Linked DNA regions of Homo sapiens. The protein of the gene in region 2 purifies or fractionates together with the protein of the main gene of each other region. This does not show direct contact. Each region holds a gene or a part of one and is shown on either strand. Other genes may lie near its edges.

What was found.
Region 1: the proteins of RASEF (region 2) and ITPR3 purify together in Homo sapiens (affinity purification with mass spectrometry; one large-scale study listed by BioGRID and IntAct). This does not show direct contact.
Region 3: the proteins of RASEF (region 2) and CHM purify together in Homo sapiens (affinity purification with mass spectrometry; one large-scale study listed by BioGRID and IntAct). This does not show direct contact.
Region 4: the proteins of RASEF (region 2) and ITPR1 purify together in Homo sapiens (affinity purification with mass spectrometry; one large-scale study listed by BioGRID and IntAct). This does not show direct contact.

The regions. Positions count from the first base shown.
Region 1 is NC_000006.12:33,627,021-33,631,321, forward strand, and holds part of ITPR3 (inositol 1,4,5-trisphosphate-gated calcium channel ITPR3), read left to right. Parts: intron 1-3,017; exon of another isoform or gene 3,018-3,364; intron 3,365-4,223; exon of another isoform or gene 4,224-4,301.
Region 2 is NC_000009.12:82,978,900-82,983,753, reverse strand, and holds the end of RASEF (ras and EF-hand domain-containing protein), read left to right. Parts: intron 1-971; coding exon 972-1,077; 3' UTR 1,078-4,164; downstream 4,165-4,854.
Region 3 is NC_000023.11:85,964,059-85,968,260, forward strand, and holds part of CHM (rab proteins geranylgeranyltransferase component A 1), read right to left. Parts: intron 1-4,202. UniProt on the Homo sapiens protein: Substrate-binding subunit of the Rab geranylgeranyltransferase (GGTase) complex.
Region 4 is NC_000003.12:4,670,827-4,675,127, forward strand, and holds part of ITPR1 (inositol 1,4,5-trisphosphate-gated calcium channel ITPR1), read left to right. Parts: coding exon 1-100; intron 101-2,309; coding exon 2,310-2,561; intron 2,562-3,375; coding exon 3,376-3,517; intron 3,518-4,241; coding exon 4,242-4,301. UniProt on the Homo sapiens protein: Inositol 1,4,5-trisphosphate-gated calcium channel that, upon inositol 1,4,5-trisphosphate binding, mediates calcium release from the endoplasmic reticulum (ER).

The DNA.
Region 1 (4,301 bases), on a different chromosome or scaffold from region 2:
TGGTCTTGAACTGCTGACCTCAGGTGATCTGCCTGCCTCGGCTTCCCAAAGTGCTGGGATTACAGGCATGAGCCACTGTACCCGGCTTGGCTTTCATTTAATTGTGATTTCATTGGAAGAAGATGTTAGACTTCTGTTCTGTACCTCAAGGCAGATTCTTGGTCTTAGCCTAATCCATGCAACTCATTTTTTGAAAATATATATATTTTTTCAGATTAAAAAAAAATATACATTCCATGGAGAAAATGTGAAAAACTCAAAAAAATGATCTGTAATACCACTATGGCTTACATGAACATTCCCTATGACCTTCTAGCCTTTTATATTCATAAATGAACATTTACAAACAATATCAAACTGCACGTATGGCTTTGTACCCTGTCCTTTTTTGCATATATATAGTGAGCTGTATTTTCCCATGCCAACACACCATTGTTATGGCTGCACAGCCATGGTATGCTGTACCTTAATTTATTTAAGCAACTCTAGTATTCAACATTCAGGCTCTTTGTAAATTTTTGCTGTTAAGAACAATTTGCCCTGAACATCCTAGTGCATGCATGCCTGAACACTTGTCTAGTTATAGTTATCCTCTCAGGTAATACGTTCCCAGAAATGGAGATCAAAGACAAGGTACACCTTTAACTCTTAGGCTGTCTAACTTTTTGTGTTTCTGTGGTGGTGGAGGGGTATAGGAACAGAACTTGGTGCCACAGAGGGTCAGACATGATTCATGTCATGTGTGAGTGTTGCACTAGCATGTGGGGAGTAAGACCAGCCTCTGCCCTCAAGGTTAGGTACTAGGCACTTCCCAGGCAGTGCGAGGATGTGATGGAGAAGGGATGAAGTGGAGAGGGGGTGGCGCGGGGTTGGCTCAGCCTAGAACCAGTGCCACACATCCACCTTGAGACTCCAGGGTCTCAGGCTGCATCCAACTGCTCGGCCTGAATCCTGCCGGCCTGAAAGAATCCTGCTGGAGCCACTTGATTACACTCTGCCCTGCCCTACATTCCTGACCCCATATCCCCTCCCTAGCTTGGCCCACTGGGGCGGTGGCTTGGGTTGGGGGTGGGGACACATGCTGAGTTTTAGGGTGGGGCCACACCAGCTTTCTGTTTTCAGCTTAGGGGGAGGTTTCTGGGTTTGGATGACCTCTGCACACATGCCTGGAGTCCCTGCATGTCCACCCCCAGCCCTGCTCTCTAGACTTCACCCCATGTGGGGCTGGGACACCCCTCTCTGGGAGTGAGGGCTGTGTGAGTGGAAGGGAAGAAACCTGGGGTGGGGGAAGGAGGAAAGCAGAACGCAGATCTCTACTAAGTTCATCACAGGCCTCTGAATGTGAGCTCTGAGCCCCCTGGGTATGTCAGGCTGGTCATGCGAAAGGTGCCAGTGACACCCAGCATTTGTACCTGCAGTCACAATTCCCTGCAGTCAGGACACCTGGCTTGGAGAGCTTGGGGTCACGCAGCAGGGGACTGAGAAGAGAAGTTTGTAGGGCCTTTCAGGCTAGGGACTGTGAGAGAAATCGTGGGTGCAGAAATGAGGCTGGGCGTTCACAACACAGTGAGTCCAGGGTGTGGGCTGGGGATGGAACTGGGTGGAGCCACATGCCACATTACAGAGGGATTTCCACTTGGGGAGACAGTCAGGAGAGACTCATTGCAGAGGCTTCAGTGAGGGAGTAAAATGGCCAGAGTGCTATGTTTTTTTGGTCAGCAGGTGGGCAGAGCCGGAAGGGGCTGTCAACACAAATCTCAGTCCAGGAGCAGCTGCAGGTGCTTGAGGCAGACACCTGTGCATATTTGGTTAGCAAATTGCTCTCCCCATCGCTCAGCCAGCCAGCCCGCCAGCCAGCCAGCCATTAGCCCTTCCTGCACAGTGCAGGAGAGCCCTCTTCTCCAGTATGAGTCTAGAAATAGATGATGGGGGTGATATAGGTAATGGGAGGGAAAATTAAGTCTGTGTCTCAAAGATGATGATGATGATGGCAGTGGGTAGACTTTACAGATCACTTACATTGGGTGGCCCTGGCCTTTACCTATGCTCTCACAGCCTGAGGCATAAATACAATTCAGGAAAAGTAGTGGGAAGCATTTAGAACACCAATTTGCTTACCACCTAGACTTAATCATTGTTTACAGTGGTCACATTTGATATTTGTATTTTTTGCTGAAGTATTTTATGATAAATTACATACATTGCATCTTTTTCACCTCTAAATATTTTATTATACATCCCTATGTAACTACAGTGTTGTGATCACACCAATTAATAGTTTCCTAATAGCATTCAGGGCCCAATCCATAGTCAGATGTGCCCATTGTCCTCAGTGGTGTGATCAGAGTTCACTGTAACCTCGAACTCCTGAGCTCAAGCAATCCTCCTGTCTTGGCCTCCCAAAGTGCTGGGATTACAGCCACTGGGCCCAGGTTGTCTGTGTTTGACCGACCATTGGTTTCTTTTTTTTTTTTTTTGAGATGGAGTTTCCCTCTTGTAGCCCAGGCTAGAGTGCAATGGTGCAATCTCGGCTCACTGCAGCCTCTGCCTCCCGGGTTCGAGTGATTCTCCTGCCTCAGCCTCCAGAGTAGCTGGGATTACCAGTGCCAGCCACCACGCCCAGCTAATTTTTGTATTTTTAGTAGAGACGGGTTTCACCATGTTGGGCAGGCTGGTCTTGAACTCCTAACCTCAGGTGATCTGCCCGCCTCAGCCTCCCAAAGTGTTGGGATTACAGGCGTGAGCCACCACGCCGGGCCTGACCATTGGTTTCTTTAAATCAGGATCCTAGGCCAGGCGCAGTGGCTCATGCCTGTAATCCCAGCTCTTTGGGAGGCTGAGGCAGGCGGATCACGAGGTCAAGAGATCAAGACCATCCTGGCCAACGTGGTGAAACTCCGTCTCTACTAAAAATACAAGAATTAGCTGGGCATCGTGGCACATGCCTGTGGTCCCAGCTACTCGGGAGGCTGAGGCAGGAGAATCACTTGAACCCGGGAGGTGGGGGTTGCAGTGAGCTGAGATCGTGCCACTGCACTCCAGCCTGGCAACAGAGTGAGACTCCGTCAAAAAAAAAGAAAAACCATCGAGATCCTGTCAAGGTACTCGTGTTACATTTTCTTATGCCTCTTCAGTTTCCTTTAATCTAAAACAGCGCCCCGCCCTCATCTCCTTTTCCACCATGAACACTGAGTTTCTGGCAAGGCGGGGTTGTGGTGTAGGCTGCTTCACTTTCTGGATTGATTTGTCAGGGCTGCCTTTGTTGCTTTGTTTCCCAGAGAGCTCTGCGGAGGTTTGGAGCCAGGGCGAGTTGGCCTGAGGGTCTGCCCTGCTGAGGGTCCTACAGCCTCAGTTACTCTGTCAAGTGAGAAAGACTGAGAGAGTCCAGTTCTGGGTTATGGAGAGTGGGAGACAAGCCTGGGGCTGGCAGGCCAAATATATGAGGCAAGGGCTGGCTGGCGGCCCATGGTTGCACCTTTTCTCCCTCTCTTCCCAGCTTTCCCTTTGGTCTCCTGCTCCCTGTCTTTCTTCTCCTTGGCCTTACAGATATGTCCTCCCATGCACCCAGCACCGCTGTAGAGACCCCAGGACTTGTCAGACAGCCCGCCTGACCCTGACAGCCAGAAACCCAGGCCTGTGGCAGAGGCAGGGTGGCACACTGGCCCCGACCTTTATTTCTACTGGGCCAAGTTTAGTTGTTCTTGCTATCTCCATTCTTCCTGGAGAGACTATTTGGGTTCTCTGCGTGTGCGGCTTATTGTCCTTTCTAGACTTTAAGCTTTCTGAAGGCTTTAGCTGTACTTGTTTTAAAATTCTATATATTCCATATACTGTCTGGCCCCCCGTTGGTTGGCACAGGGTGGATTCTTGGTAAAGATATGTAGAGGTAAAGGAAATGGTTGCTTTTGCAGGGATGCAGGAGTTAATTTCTTTTCTCTGATGAGCCAGGAGCCCCAACCAGTGAATCTGGGTTTCTCTCTTAACATTCCGCCTAGTAGGTGTGACTTTGGCTATCTGGAGAAAGGGCCCCCCAGGCTTCCCACCCACCACCAGCCCATCCCAGTGTTCTGACAGTGCCTGCTGTTGGAGTGGCCTCCTTGGGGCTGGCCTGCATCTGTGGAGTGGTGGCCAGTTGTAGGGTCTAGCCCTACGGGGCTTAGTGGGTGTTCTCCCCATGTGCGGAGATGAGAGATTGTAATAAATAAAAGCACAAGACAAAGAGATAAAGAAAAAACACCTGGGCCGGGGTGACCACTACCATCAAGACGCGGAGACCAGTAGTGGCCCTGAACGGCTGGGGT
Region 2 (4,854 bases):
GAGATTGCTGCAGCCCCGCATTATAAACACTTGGGTTTAGAAGCCACAGAATACCATTTCCTCCATATTCTATTGGTCAAAGCAGGTGGAGAACCAGCTCTGACCAAGAGGGTAGGGGATCAAACCTTCACCTCTTGATGGGAGAGGCATCAGGCACTGACAAGGAAGGGCAGAATTATTTGGGGCCATCTTAGGGAGGCACTCATCTCGCTGGCAGAGATAGCCGTTCAGCTTGTCTAAGGTGAGACTTCTGGTCTTCATATTTCACAAGCATCCCCAGTGGCTACACCTGGAAGGATACTTCCTTAGGGGGTTTTCATAAGATCTTGGAGAGTAAGACATTTTTTCGTGAGTCTTGCCTCTAGCAGTTAATACTGGAAGAAGCTTACGATGACAGAAAGGGATGGTGGTAAATCCATTGTTACCTCCATGATCATGTATAATTAAAGAACGGTTATAAAATCACCATTGCTTTTGTTAAGCTCAGCAACCATTACATGAAGCTGGAAACCTGGTTCCAGAGTGTTAAGGAGCAAGCTGTGTGTATCGCAGGTTCTGCAGCATCCTGAAACCTCAGGAGAGAGTGAGGGGAGAAGGGTGTGTGTGTGTGTGTGTGTGTGTGTGTGTGTGTGTGTGTGTGTGTGTGGCCTGGTACTCAGAAAACAGGTGCTGGAGCCAGCCTGTGTGGTTTTAATCCCACTTCTGTAGTCATGTGACCTAAGGGAACTGTCTTAACCTCTTTTTGCCCTCATTTCCTCACATACAAAATGGGGCACAGCAAATTTATATGGTTCTTATGAAGATTAAGTCAAGACCTATAAAGCATTAAAACAATGTCTATAAGGCCGTGCAGACACTCAGCATGGCTATTTTTATTTCTACAGAACCATCTGTGGCTTAGTTTTTATACCTCAGTAATCCTCTCTCTCTCTCTCTCTCTCTCTCTCTGTCTCTCTCTATCTCTGTCTCAGAGAAGTGAAAAAGAGAACTGACAAGGATGACAGCAGATCCATTACCAATCTAACCGGGACCAATTCCAAAAAGTCACCACAGATGAAGAATTGTTGCAATGGCTAAATCCCAAACATCCTTGGCCTGTGAAGTCTTCATTTCCAGAATACTGAATTTGTGTGACTTATTTGGCTCTTAACAGAGTGGCACATCCTACTGACACTGTCCTATGGAGAGTTACAGTGCAGGAAACCTGAACCCAGCTCTCAGGTCCCTCTGGAACTTTGGCTCTTCTTTGTTTTGTCTCAGTGAGTGATTTGGGCCCTCTGGCTAAATAGACTAGTCATGTCCTTACAGGTCTTAAAAGATAACATGTAAATGTTTTTAAAATGGTAAAAAAAAAGAAAAGAAAAGAAATCACATGCTCAGATCAAAGCTGTAGAGGAAACTGACATAATTAGATTCATGTGGTAGCTGAATTAGGTTACCCACAAAGTCAGCATTTAAATATTTGATACTAAAGTTCTAGTAAGAAGGGATTCTCATCCTAGCTTTGCTGTTAACTGGCCTTGTGACCTTGGACATGTCACAAGCCCATGTCGGATCTGTTTCTTCATCTGTAAAATGTGCAGCTTGCCCTCAAAGGCCTTGCAGCCCTTGGCACCTCAGATTCTGTGGGAAGCAGTAGGACAGAGAGTGTGGTGGCCCACAGTTAATAATAGAACTATGGTTATTCCTGCTTTTTAATATTGGAGTATTGATTTTTCTCACTTCTGAAATAAGGACAGAATTTGATTAAAAAATGGAAACAGAAATATCTATTTTTTATGTATAAAGAAACATGTTTGAGACAAAAATAGTTGTATATAAAAGGATATTTCATAATCTCAGAATAGTTACAAAGCTCACTGCTTGAATTTGGTGTTAAAAATTCTAATGGAAACATGTAAAGCCACATACTACTGAAAGCACAATGCCCAGGAAAGTTGTCACTCTTCACTTAAGGGAGTGGTTGCCAGGGGCTGAGAAAGGGAGGATGGGGAGTGACTGCTAATAGGTATGTGGTTTCTTTGGGCGATGATGAGAATGTTCTGGAATTGGAATAGTGGTGATAGTTGTATAACTGTTTGAATGTACTAGGAACCACTGAATTGTATACTTTGAAAGGGTGAATTTTATGGTTGTGAATTATCTCACTAAAAAAAATGCTAGTACTTAGAGTGATGTAACATTTTGCAAAATTTTCATTTTCGTATCCCTGCTGATTTCAAACCTTCCCATGGTTTAGAAGCATAACCTGTAATGTAATGCAAGTCCCCTAACTCCCTGGTTGCTAACATTAACTTCCTTAAGTAATAATCAATGAAAGAAATTCTATGCATGGTTTTGAAATAATATCCTTGAAAGAGGAATCACCATTAGGAAAGGTGAGTCAGGGTCCTTTGTTTAATGTGACTAGTGGCTCATCATCACCAGTGACCTGGTTGGGCCTACTCTCCTTCCAGAACCTGCATTGCTTCCCAGACCTCCCCACTGAGATGCCTCTAAGAGCCAAAGGAGTCAACACTTGAGCCTAGGGTGGGCTACAACAAAAGATTCTAATTTACCTTGCTTCATCTAGGTCCAGGCCCCAAGTAGCTTGCTGAAGGAACTTAAAAAGTAGCTGTTATTTATTGTATTGTATAAGCTAAAAACATTTATTTTTGTTGAATCGAAACAATTCCATGTAGCAATCTTTTTTCTGTTCACGGTGTTTGTGATAGAACCTTAAATTCCGCAAGCATCAGTTTTTTGAAAAAATGGGAATTGACCGGATAGTTACAGGCAAAGATTATAAATAGCTACAACATCATTTAACTTTTATAAACATGCCTTCTCTCTATTGAAGACATCTGATATTTTTGCTGGAAAGTTGGATCTATCCTCAGTAACTCTGCCATGAATTCCTGTTTCCTGGTTCCAGAAAAAGAAAAGATTACATTTCTGATCATAAAGAATGTCTTGCATATGGGAAATTTTTCAAAATAAGGGGGGTATTATTTATGTGGCATGGGAAAACTTTTGCCATGGCTGTTTGTCTTAGTGGCATCTTTTGATGACATTGGATCAGATATATGTAGATGCTGATATATGGGACACATGTTTAGGTTTTGGTGCAGTTGCACAAAACTGTGTTAGTTTATATGTTACTGTGTTGCCTTTATTTATTCTCTCCAAAGTGTCTCTTTATATTTGTTTTACAATCTGTGAAAGAGTATACCATAATACAGAAGTATTTTCATAGTCTTTACCTCTGGATTGTCCTGTCAGTATAGCCACGTTGATGAGATTACACCAGTGCCTTTGATGGTCAACCAATCATCTTTAAGTATTTGAGCCCTGATAAATATTTTGGTAACATAATCCAAATTAGAGACTTAGAGCTCTGGTTAGCAATCATGTTTAAAGAGAAGCTTCTTAAAGCTCTGTATGCTGGGAGATTCATGATTATTACCAACGTTTTGATTTCATGAAGGTGTTCTCAAATTTAAAGCACATTTTCAGTAAGAACAAAAATATTTAATGTTTTTATCTTAGACTTGATACATTTGCATATTACTATGGAAGTTATTCACCTTGTCCCTGTTTTTCTTTAAGATATTTTAAAATCATAGTTATACTACAGTCCTTTTTTAAATGTATCCTGATACATTGTAAAATATTTTAATTTCATTGTGGAAAATAATGTTGGATAAGGAGATATTTTTCACTGTTAACTTTTAGCCCATGCATTTTCATAATTTATTTTTTTCACTTGCTGCTTTATATGACATATGTGACATTTGATTATTTAACACTTGATGTGATCTGCATAAACCCAAGTTGCACAACCCTCCTGCTGAAGATAAAATTGAGGTTAAAGATAAAGATTTATTTTCATATTTGTACAGTGATCGGCTTCAGTGATGGTTTTTGTGGGCATTTATTGTGTGTGTGTAAGAAATTTCATATGTATATATTAAGTAGGCCTCTGAGTATTGAATAATTGTTTTATGATTTTGATTTATATGGTTTACATTTTCATTGTGTGGGCCATATTTCGTTTATACTGTTTATTTCTCTTCAAACCTTAATAATTATACCATAAAGTGTAATTTTTATAGCAATGCAAATGTCTAAGGAACTACAAATATTTTCTACGTTGTAAATTCAATAAAGCTTGCTTCCTTTGGCCTTTTGAGTGTTTCCTTCAGCTTTACTGCAGATATCCCTGAAGTAATTTTAATTCTAGGATGTGTCTGCCTGAAACCATACCTCTAAAACACTTGTCTTTTCTGGCCATGGCAAGCCGAGTGTTGGGAGAGAAGAATGCACGCCTGGTATTCAGTGCTGTGGCACAGACAAGTCATCCTGGCCAACAGGGCAGCAGGTAGACCAGCTTGGGACAGGACAGCCAGGAATAGTGAGGCCTCTGTAGAAGAATGTCAGTGTTCTGGCCATCCGCACATCCTCTGAGGAGTTAGACCTTTTCTCTGATTCTCACCCCTTTCTTTCTACCCCCACATTCCCATGCACCCCAATAGGCTGAGGCTACCTGCCCTCACTCCTGTTGTACCTTTTAAAATGTGTCAACATCCTTCTTGTCCTTTTACTTATTACATAGACAGATGCCCCATGTCCTTAGCCACTTTTGTCTACTGCCGCCTCCCTTCTGTTGTATGCAGTGCTTGATACTTTAATTGTCCTAATTGTTGAATGGATGGTCAAGGAATTAACTGGTTAAATAAGGTAGGCTTTGCAAAGAGTGTCTGCCAACACCCACCACCACCAACACACACACACAGACACACATACATGATGATGGTGGACAATATAAGTACGAGGCAGTATAATATCAATGGGTATGAGCTCTGAGGCCAGCCT
Region 3 (4,202 bases), on a different chromosome or scaffold from region 2:
AGAAATATAATAATAAACACCAGGCTTTATATATATATTCCCTTACCCCTTTTATCAAGTTCAGTGTACGTTTTGCTTATGTGACTCAGACATTAAACATTCATCTGTTAATGTTTCAGTAAAATATGAAACAAAATTAAGATTTGAAAGATATAAAGATTTCATGTCACATGCACATTTTTGAGAATTTAAGACAGACAGGGGAACTGTATTGGAAGCAAATTACCACAGTGATGAAGAACACAGTCTTCAGAATAACAGATCTTGGTTCAAACCCTGACCATATGACTAGTAAGCTCTGCGAACTTAGATACTTATGTATCCTCTCTGAGACCACCTAAATTACCCTCAATTTAGGTAATTACCTAAATTACCCTCTCTGAGACCACCTAAATTACCCATCTATGACACAGAGATAATACCACCTACCACAAGGTTGTTTTGAAGATTAAATTAAGTACTGCATGCAAAGAGCCTGACACAGTGCCTGGGACATAGTAAATACTCAACAGTGGTAGTTATCAAAGATGATTATTACTGAGGAATTCCTGACTTGGTGATACGACAGAAGACCTTCAATAAAGGGAAAAATATCTGCCTTGAAAAGATTAAGTTGGCCTATCACAATGTGGTATCTAATAGGACCTTTCTGTATAATTTCCTGCCTATTTTAGTACTGATGTCTATTACTCTAGTCGAAGCCCCATTTCCAAATTTATTATTGGAGCTAACATTCTCAGTCCACCATTGTCTTGATTTATAGAACAGGCTCCCATTCAGTCTGCCTGCTTTATGAATTTCTGTGATATTTTATCCTCCACAGAACCCACTATTTTCACTGAGTTGCCACACTGCTCAATACCTGGCAGAATGCCTTGTATGTGATTGGTCTTGGCAAGTAAAAATCTGCTAGTTGACTAACAGTAGCCCTAACAGTAGCCCTTCCTTATATCAAATACCCCACAAAAAAATCTTCCTTTTCCTGTCTCTAAACCAAACCACCTTCCTTATTTACTAATCTTCTGGTTTCATCTCCACCTACTTTCCAACATGGCATCTCTAACTCCGAATTTATCAATTCTAATTGTCAAATCATGACAGTTTGGTTCATATCATTTGTTTCTTCTGTCCTTTTCTTCCCACTCTGCATAATATCACAATTCTTCCATTCTCAAACATAATCACATACTTTAGCAAACTACTTTAAGAAAAAGTTTAAATTTAACTTCCAATTAGTCTTCCTTACTCCAATTACACTCATCACTCTATTATACCATGCTCCCATAATACACATATGCAGTTTACCTTGCATGTATTTATCCATTCCTTTTTAATAGTCCTTTAGTTTTCCAGTATATCCTTTATCTTCCAAATCAGACTGTAATTCCTTGAGGGAATACCTTAGCACCGCTCCTTCTGTGCCCCTCACGACACCTACCACACTGCTCCATAGATGTGGTATCCAATAAATGCTTAATTAATAATGGTTTATACGTGCAGACTATTTTTGTTTCAAATGCGAAACAAACTTGTTGCAAAAAACACAAAAAATAAGGCCAAGAAAAAAACACGGTATTGTAAATTAGAAAGTCCGAGTTAAGTGAAAAAAAGAAGTGCCTTATTAAAAATAACACAATGAACACTACAAAAAAAAATGAGGGACAATGATAGAATAACACTCAAATGTCAAGAAATAAAATGCCATATTTACTGTTATAGTAATTCTAATAAAATCTAGTGAAGAAACAAATTGATATCATTAATGTTACATGAATATTTTTGAGATCTAGGAAACCAAAGTGAGGAAAACACCCACTTTGTTCTATCCTAGATTTATCACTTAGGAAACACTTGGCAAGTCATTTAATCTCTCTGATTCACCACATATAAAATGGGGATCAGTCCATTTGCCTTACCTTTTATGAAACTGTTGTGAGATAAGGAAGCTAACATATATGAAAAGTAGTTTATAAACTCTAAAAGGTTAATCAAAGATAAGATACTAATCAGGCCGGGCACGGTGGCTTACACCTGTAATCCCAGCACTGTGGTAGGCCGAGGTGGGTGGATCACTTGAGGTCAAGAGTTCAAGACCAGCCTGACCAACATGGTGAAACCTAGTCTCTACTAAAATGCAAAAATTAGCTGGGCGTGGTGATGGGCACCTGTAATCTCAGCTACTTGGGAGGCTGAGGCCAGAGAATCACTTGAACCCAGGAGGCGGAGGTAGCAGTGAGCCAAGATCGTCCCATTGCACTCCAGCCTGGGCAACAAGAGCAAAACTCCGTCTAAAAAAAAAAAAAAAAAACTACTCAAAAATAAGATATTGTTAAACTGCCCACAGCTCAACAGTCAACTCAAAACCTGTATACCTAGGTTTTCTGCATTCACATGACAAAAGCCCATTGGCCATATAAGCACATAATAGCATCGCTATTAACAGCATTAAGAATGAAGAGTCATAATATGAAAGGTGATTTATATATTTTCTACAGAATTGTTCACACTCTTATTCACTTTTATTATCTTGAAAACCAACAAAACTAAAGTGTGTTACATGAGGGATCTAAGGGGACAATTTTCAGCAAAAGTTCCACACCTAATTTTTTGTTTTTCAGTAAAAGTTCCATGCCTAACTCTTAAAGCAAAAGTTCCATGCCTTTAATTTTAAGAAAGGATAATTAATTACACTTTACAGATAAGACAAAATATGGCAACTTCTCTTATTACAGACTATGATGATGACACTGTGAAAACTGAGCATAGCAAATGATCTAGTCAGTGGTTCTCTATTACATTCTGTGATGGGGGCCCTATAGAGTGAATGAAATACATTAACCAGTACTGGACAACCTGGAAGATATAAGTCAAAATACTTAATTAAAGGTATAAGCGAAGAGAAGAAATTATTCTTCGGAAATTTTTTCTACATCAATAAACTATCGTTTTACTGTTCTCAACATTATAATTTGGTGAGATTCCTAGCACTACGGAAAACACAAGCAATAAAAACACAACACTGTCCTCACTTTCCATTAAAAACAACCACAGTATTTTTGGAGTTCTGCCAAGGTTGAAGTTAATACCTAATGAGAAAATATAAAGACACCCAAAAGCTCCTAAAACTCCACTGACATCCTCAGAAAGCAAAATTCTGTTCATCTAAAAGGGTTATCTTTCCCCAAATTTAAAACTTTATACTGTGGTAAAAGACATTTTCTTAAAAAGATATTCAACCTTTCAGAGAAAACCTCAGAATCCAGTAATAGTTCAATTCTACTAATTTAAAAGTGTTTGAAAACTATAAAAACACATTTACCAATTACAAAACAATGTAGCTGCATTATAAGCCTTCAAATGAACCTTGGAGTTCTAAGATATTACAATGATTTTAACATACACAGGTGCTCCTCGACTTATGATGGGGTTACGTCCTGATAAACCCAATATAGTAAGACAAAGTGCATTTAATACCCCAATAAAACCATTACAAAGTTGAAAAATCATTAAGTCGAACCATCTTAAGCTGCAGACTGTTTATCTAAAGGAAAACAATCTGCATCATTAGTTCTTATAAAAATGTTCACTATCAAAATTGATTTCACAAATTAAATTTAGTGTCATTTACATTGCTAGCTTTAATTCCAAAGGTCATTTATAATGTAACAATATTTTTTAGATAATTTTTCTTAATAAAAACTGCTTAACACTGCTTTTTGTAAATGCATTTTTCACTAATTGCCAAAATTCATATACTACTCTGAGAGTTTGGAGGTATATATTCTGATATCATCTAGTACTGCTTCCCAATTAATAGTAATAACAAAGAAACACCTCAAAGTAAATGTGTCTTATGAATACCTTGTAACAGCCTTTTAGAGGAATCAAATGAAAAACTGAGGAACAGGTGTTTAATTTATTCAGCACAGGTGTTCACCATTTATTTTTCAGCCATTTGCACCTTCTCTTACCCAATACGACTTGCTGCAGACATTGTATTCTTTTACTTTGATGTTTATACTTTGTTCTAAGGCCATTTATTTCTGATTTTCACAGTATATATTATACTGCTACCCAGCTGTTTATTCCTAAAATAAATGTTTAATGGCTATTCATAAGAATTACAAAAATCAGACTATTCAGAAATTGTTGTTCTACAAAATAGCAATATAAAAAGTGAAATCAATTTTGAATTGCTGCAA
Region 4 (4,301 bases), on a different chromosome or scaffold from region 2:
GGGACAGCAACAAAGAGATTCGCAGCAAGAGTGTGAGGGAATTGGCTCAGGATGCTAAAGAAGGGCAGAAGGAGGACCGAGACGTTCTCAGCTACTACAGGTGCGTGGGACACGTGTGGGGCTCAGATTGGGGTGCCCCAAAACAGTGGCACTTAGGAATTTGTTGCTCGTTTGTTGATTACTTCAAGGAATCACAAGGAGTCATCTTGTAAGATTGTCTAGAAAAAAGCCAGATGTGTGTTTTAGGAGTTTGGAGTGTAAGATTTCAGTTAGTTGACATCTGGATGTGGCTGGTTCCCAAAAAGGATGAGTGCTTGCCTCAGTCCCTGGTGATAGTTTATCCTTCAGCAGCATGGCCCATAGATATGGTGGTAGGTACGTAAGAGGCAGGCTGTGGGGTCACATCCCTACCTCTCCGCTTACCAGTTTTTTGACATTGGCCAAGTTTGATTTTATGCTCTAATTTCTTTATCTGCAAAATGAAGGTGATAGTGCCAATCTCACCAAATGTTTATAGACAGAGACAGAAGATGTGTGTGTTTGTATACACATATATCTACACATTCATCCATGTATCTTTCTATAACTACACAAATATATAATAAAAAGCATGTACTTACACTAATACTTCCAATTCCATTCCAACACCATAGGATTTATTCTAGCCTTCACCTTTTCCATTTCATGACTCCCTCCAGCTGCCACGATTCCCTGTATGTTTACCCATCTGCCCGTTTCCCTGTGTGTACCTGTCTCACCTCTGCCACCCACCTCCACGGTCCCCAGTGTCTCCTTGGCTCCAGCTGTAAGACCTGCCAGTCCTGCCACCTGAAGGGAAGGGAAGGGGAAGAAAGAAAGGAAGTGAACCAATTAATACTTTTAAAAGAAAAGGAAAGGGAAGATAAAGCAAGGCTTTTATTATTTTTTAATAAAATAAATAAAACTGCAGATAAAATGCCTTTTCTTGCCTCCTGTATTCTGTTCTTTCATTCATGTGTGATGTACGCATCCTATCCACATTCTCTGTGTGCTGCATTTGTATGCATCTGTAAATCATATGTAGTATTTTATCTCTACTTAAAATTTTATATAAATGGGACTGTACTCCAAATACCATTCTAAAACTTGCCTTATTTATTCAATACGGGTACTGAAGCCATATTGAATATATCTGCGTTAATAGAGATTAATCCATTTCTGTAATTTGGACTGTTGGATGATATTCTGTTTTATTGATTTATCACATTTTCATCGCTGTTTGATATTTGATCACATGCTGCAGTTCTTCATGTCAGGAAACATCTTCATTCAAATTTTTCTGAGTATATGTATGAATTTCCATTCCACACTGGGAGGTGGGCTTGGAGGATATTCATATTTTAAGCTTTACTAAGCAATTCTAAATTGGATGTGTCAGTGTACACACCCACCAGTTGTAGACGACAAGCTTTGTTTCTTCATGTCTTTGTTAACCTTGAATATCATGATGCTTTTTAATTTTTGGTAATTTTATAAGTGTGAAATAGACTCATGTCTACACTTGCATTTCCCCGACATCTAATGAGGCTGAGAATGTCTTCAAATCATGATTATTAGAAATACATAGAGTTTTTAATTCAGAAGGCAGTATTTTGAAAGCCTGTGGCTTTCTCGTTATTTCACATTTCAAGTATGTTTACTCTTTCAGTGTTTGATGAATCTTCTCCCAAGTGAATGAGAAAGAGTGCCTTAATTGGTCAGGTTCCAGTTAACAACATTCACTTGCAATTGGATGAAGATGAAAAGTGAGGAGTCTCCTACTTTTGTAAATGAAATGTTTTTTTACACGTGTAGGAATTAGAGTGACTTACATGATATAAGATCTTTAAAATGTTATAAAATTTCTAATTAGGCTGAATATGTGTGATATCTTGAACATTTCCTACATGGTCTTTACTGTATAAAACACAGCTGAAGGGAAAGAAATAGACAACCATCTTAGGCCTTAGCATTCCCCCCGTTTATTTTAAAAAGTAAACATTAAGGACCTAGTGGAATTAGGTCGTCACATAATTGCTCCAACACAGCTGGATAGACATGTGTTCCTGTTGGCTGTCAACCCACACTCTACTGCACAGCTTGAATAGTTCTTTTATCTGCTTGGTACCAAAGCCAAAATCCTGGTATACAAGAGCAATTTAGGGGTGTTGATGTATGAGTTTAGTTGGCCAAATGTCACTCCCATGACAGTCAGGGCTGCCCAGACGACCCTTCATTCATCCTGAATGATTTCTGGAGCGTGAGCTGTGTGCCCTTGTTCCTTCCTCTAGATATCAGCTGAACCTCTTTGCGAGGATGTGTCTGGACCGCCAATACCTGGCCATCAACGAAATCTCAGGCCAGCTGGATGTCGATCTCATTCTCCGCTGCATGTCTGACGAGAACCTGCCCTATGACCTCAGGGCGTCCTTCTGCCGCCTCATGCTTCACATGCATGTGGACCGAGATCCCCAGGAACAAGTCACCCCCGTGAAATATGCCCGCCTCTGGTCGGAGATTCCCTCGGAGATCGCCATTGACGAGTGAGCCTGGCACCTGAAAACCTCACTTTACATTATTCTGTGCGGCAGTAGATAGCCCCATATGGTCTCATTAAATCTTAGAAGAAAGATGAAGTGTTGGTTTTTTCTTCAAGCTTAAAATAAAATTAAGTGGATGGCAAATATTTTTTTCCTCAAGAATGTGAAAGATGGCATGATTATGTTTTTGGTTTTTGTTTGTTTGTTTGTTTGTTTGAGATGGAGTCTCACTCTGTTGCCCAGGCTGAACTGCAGTGGCGCAATCTCGGCTCACTACAAGCTCTGCCTCCCGGGTTCGTGCCATTCTCCTTCCTCAGCCTCCCAAGTAGCTGGGACTACAGACGCCCACCACCACGCCCGGCTAATTTTTTGTATTTTTAGTAGGGACGGGGTTTCACCGTGTTAGCTAGGACGGTCTCGATCTCCTGACCTTGTGAGCCGTCCACCTCGGCCTCCCAAAGTGCTGGGATTACAGGCGTGAGCCACCGCGCCTGGCCCCGATTGTATTTTTTATATCTCATTTATCTCCTCTTTCATTCTGCAAATATTTAAGTGTGTACTATGTGCCAAGCTCAAGAAATATATCAGTGAACAAACTAGAAAGCAATCTCTATGCTAGTTGGTGGAAGACAGACAATAGGCAAGATAAACGACTCAAATATATAGTTGGTGATATATGCTAAGGAGGGAAAAAATAAAGTAGGGTCAAGGGATGCCAAGGGTTAGGGGATGTTGACTTTTGAAGCTGAGTGACCCAGGAAGACCTCTCTGGGAATAACTTGAAATTTTGTTTCCTTTCTTTCTCCTTTCTTTTCAGCTATGATAGTAGTGGAGCTTCCAAAGATGAAATTAAGGAGAGATTTGCTCAGACCATGGAGTTTGTGGAGGAGTATTTAAGAGATGTGGTTTGTCAGAGGTTCCCTTTCTCTGATAAAGAGAAGAATAAGCTTACGTTTGAGGTAACTCATGATGAAATCTTCTATGTGTATTATCTGCCTCTCAGTGGTCATTTTTCTATGGGGCAAATAGAAAATATGTGAGTAGGTTGTGATTTTGGTCATGATGCTCTGGTTTTGTAATGGAAAGGAATTCAGCTTGGTTTTGTTCCAGAATAAAATAAAACGGATACCAGTCACATGGCTTAATAGTAGTTATGGGCTTAAAAGAAATATACAAGGTGACTTGAACCACATAAAATGATAGAACATCACTTTGTGTTAAAACTGACAAGAGAGAAACACTGTGCTTGCAATCTGCCATAGCTTAATCATTTGCAGAACATAAATCCTTGTTACTTCTGAGTTAACAACGTTTCTGAGACTGCTTTTGCCTTTTAAGAGCTGTATTGCTGAGGATCGCAGAGTGTTATTATCTGTGTCCTTATTGGGAATAACTCTGCTTGCCTGGTGTTAATATTATCCTTGGGAAGCTGTGTAGAGCAAATGATGAGGTCTTTTTTTTTTTTTGATTAGTCATCAGAGCAGATCAGTAGCTTTCCATTTCTTATTTTTCCTCCTTATGAAACAAAATGAAAATTTATCAGAAAGTGCAAGGAAAATACATGCCTTCTCTTACCATAAGGAAGGTCCAAGTCTGTCATTTCTAAACTGGTCAACATCAAATGGAATTGAAGGGGATGCAGTTTATGTAATACCGTCTTCTTCTTTTATTTTAATACAATAGGTTGTAAATTTAGCTAGGAATCTCATATACTTTGGTTTCTACAACTTCTCTGACCTTCTA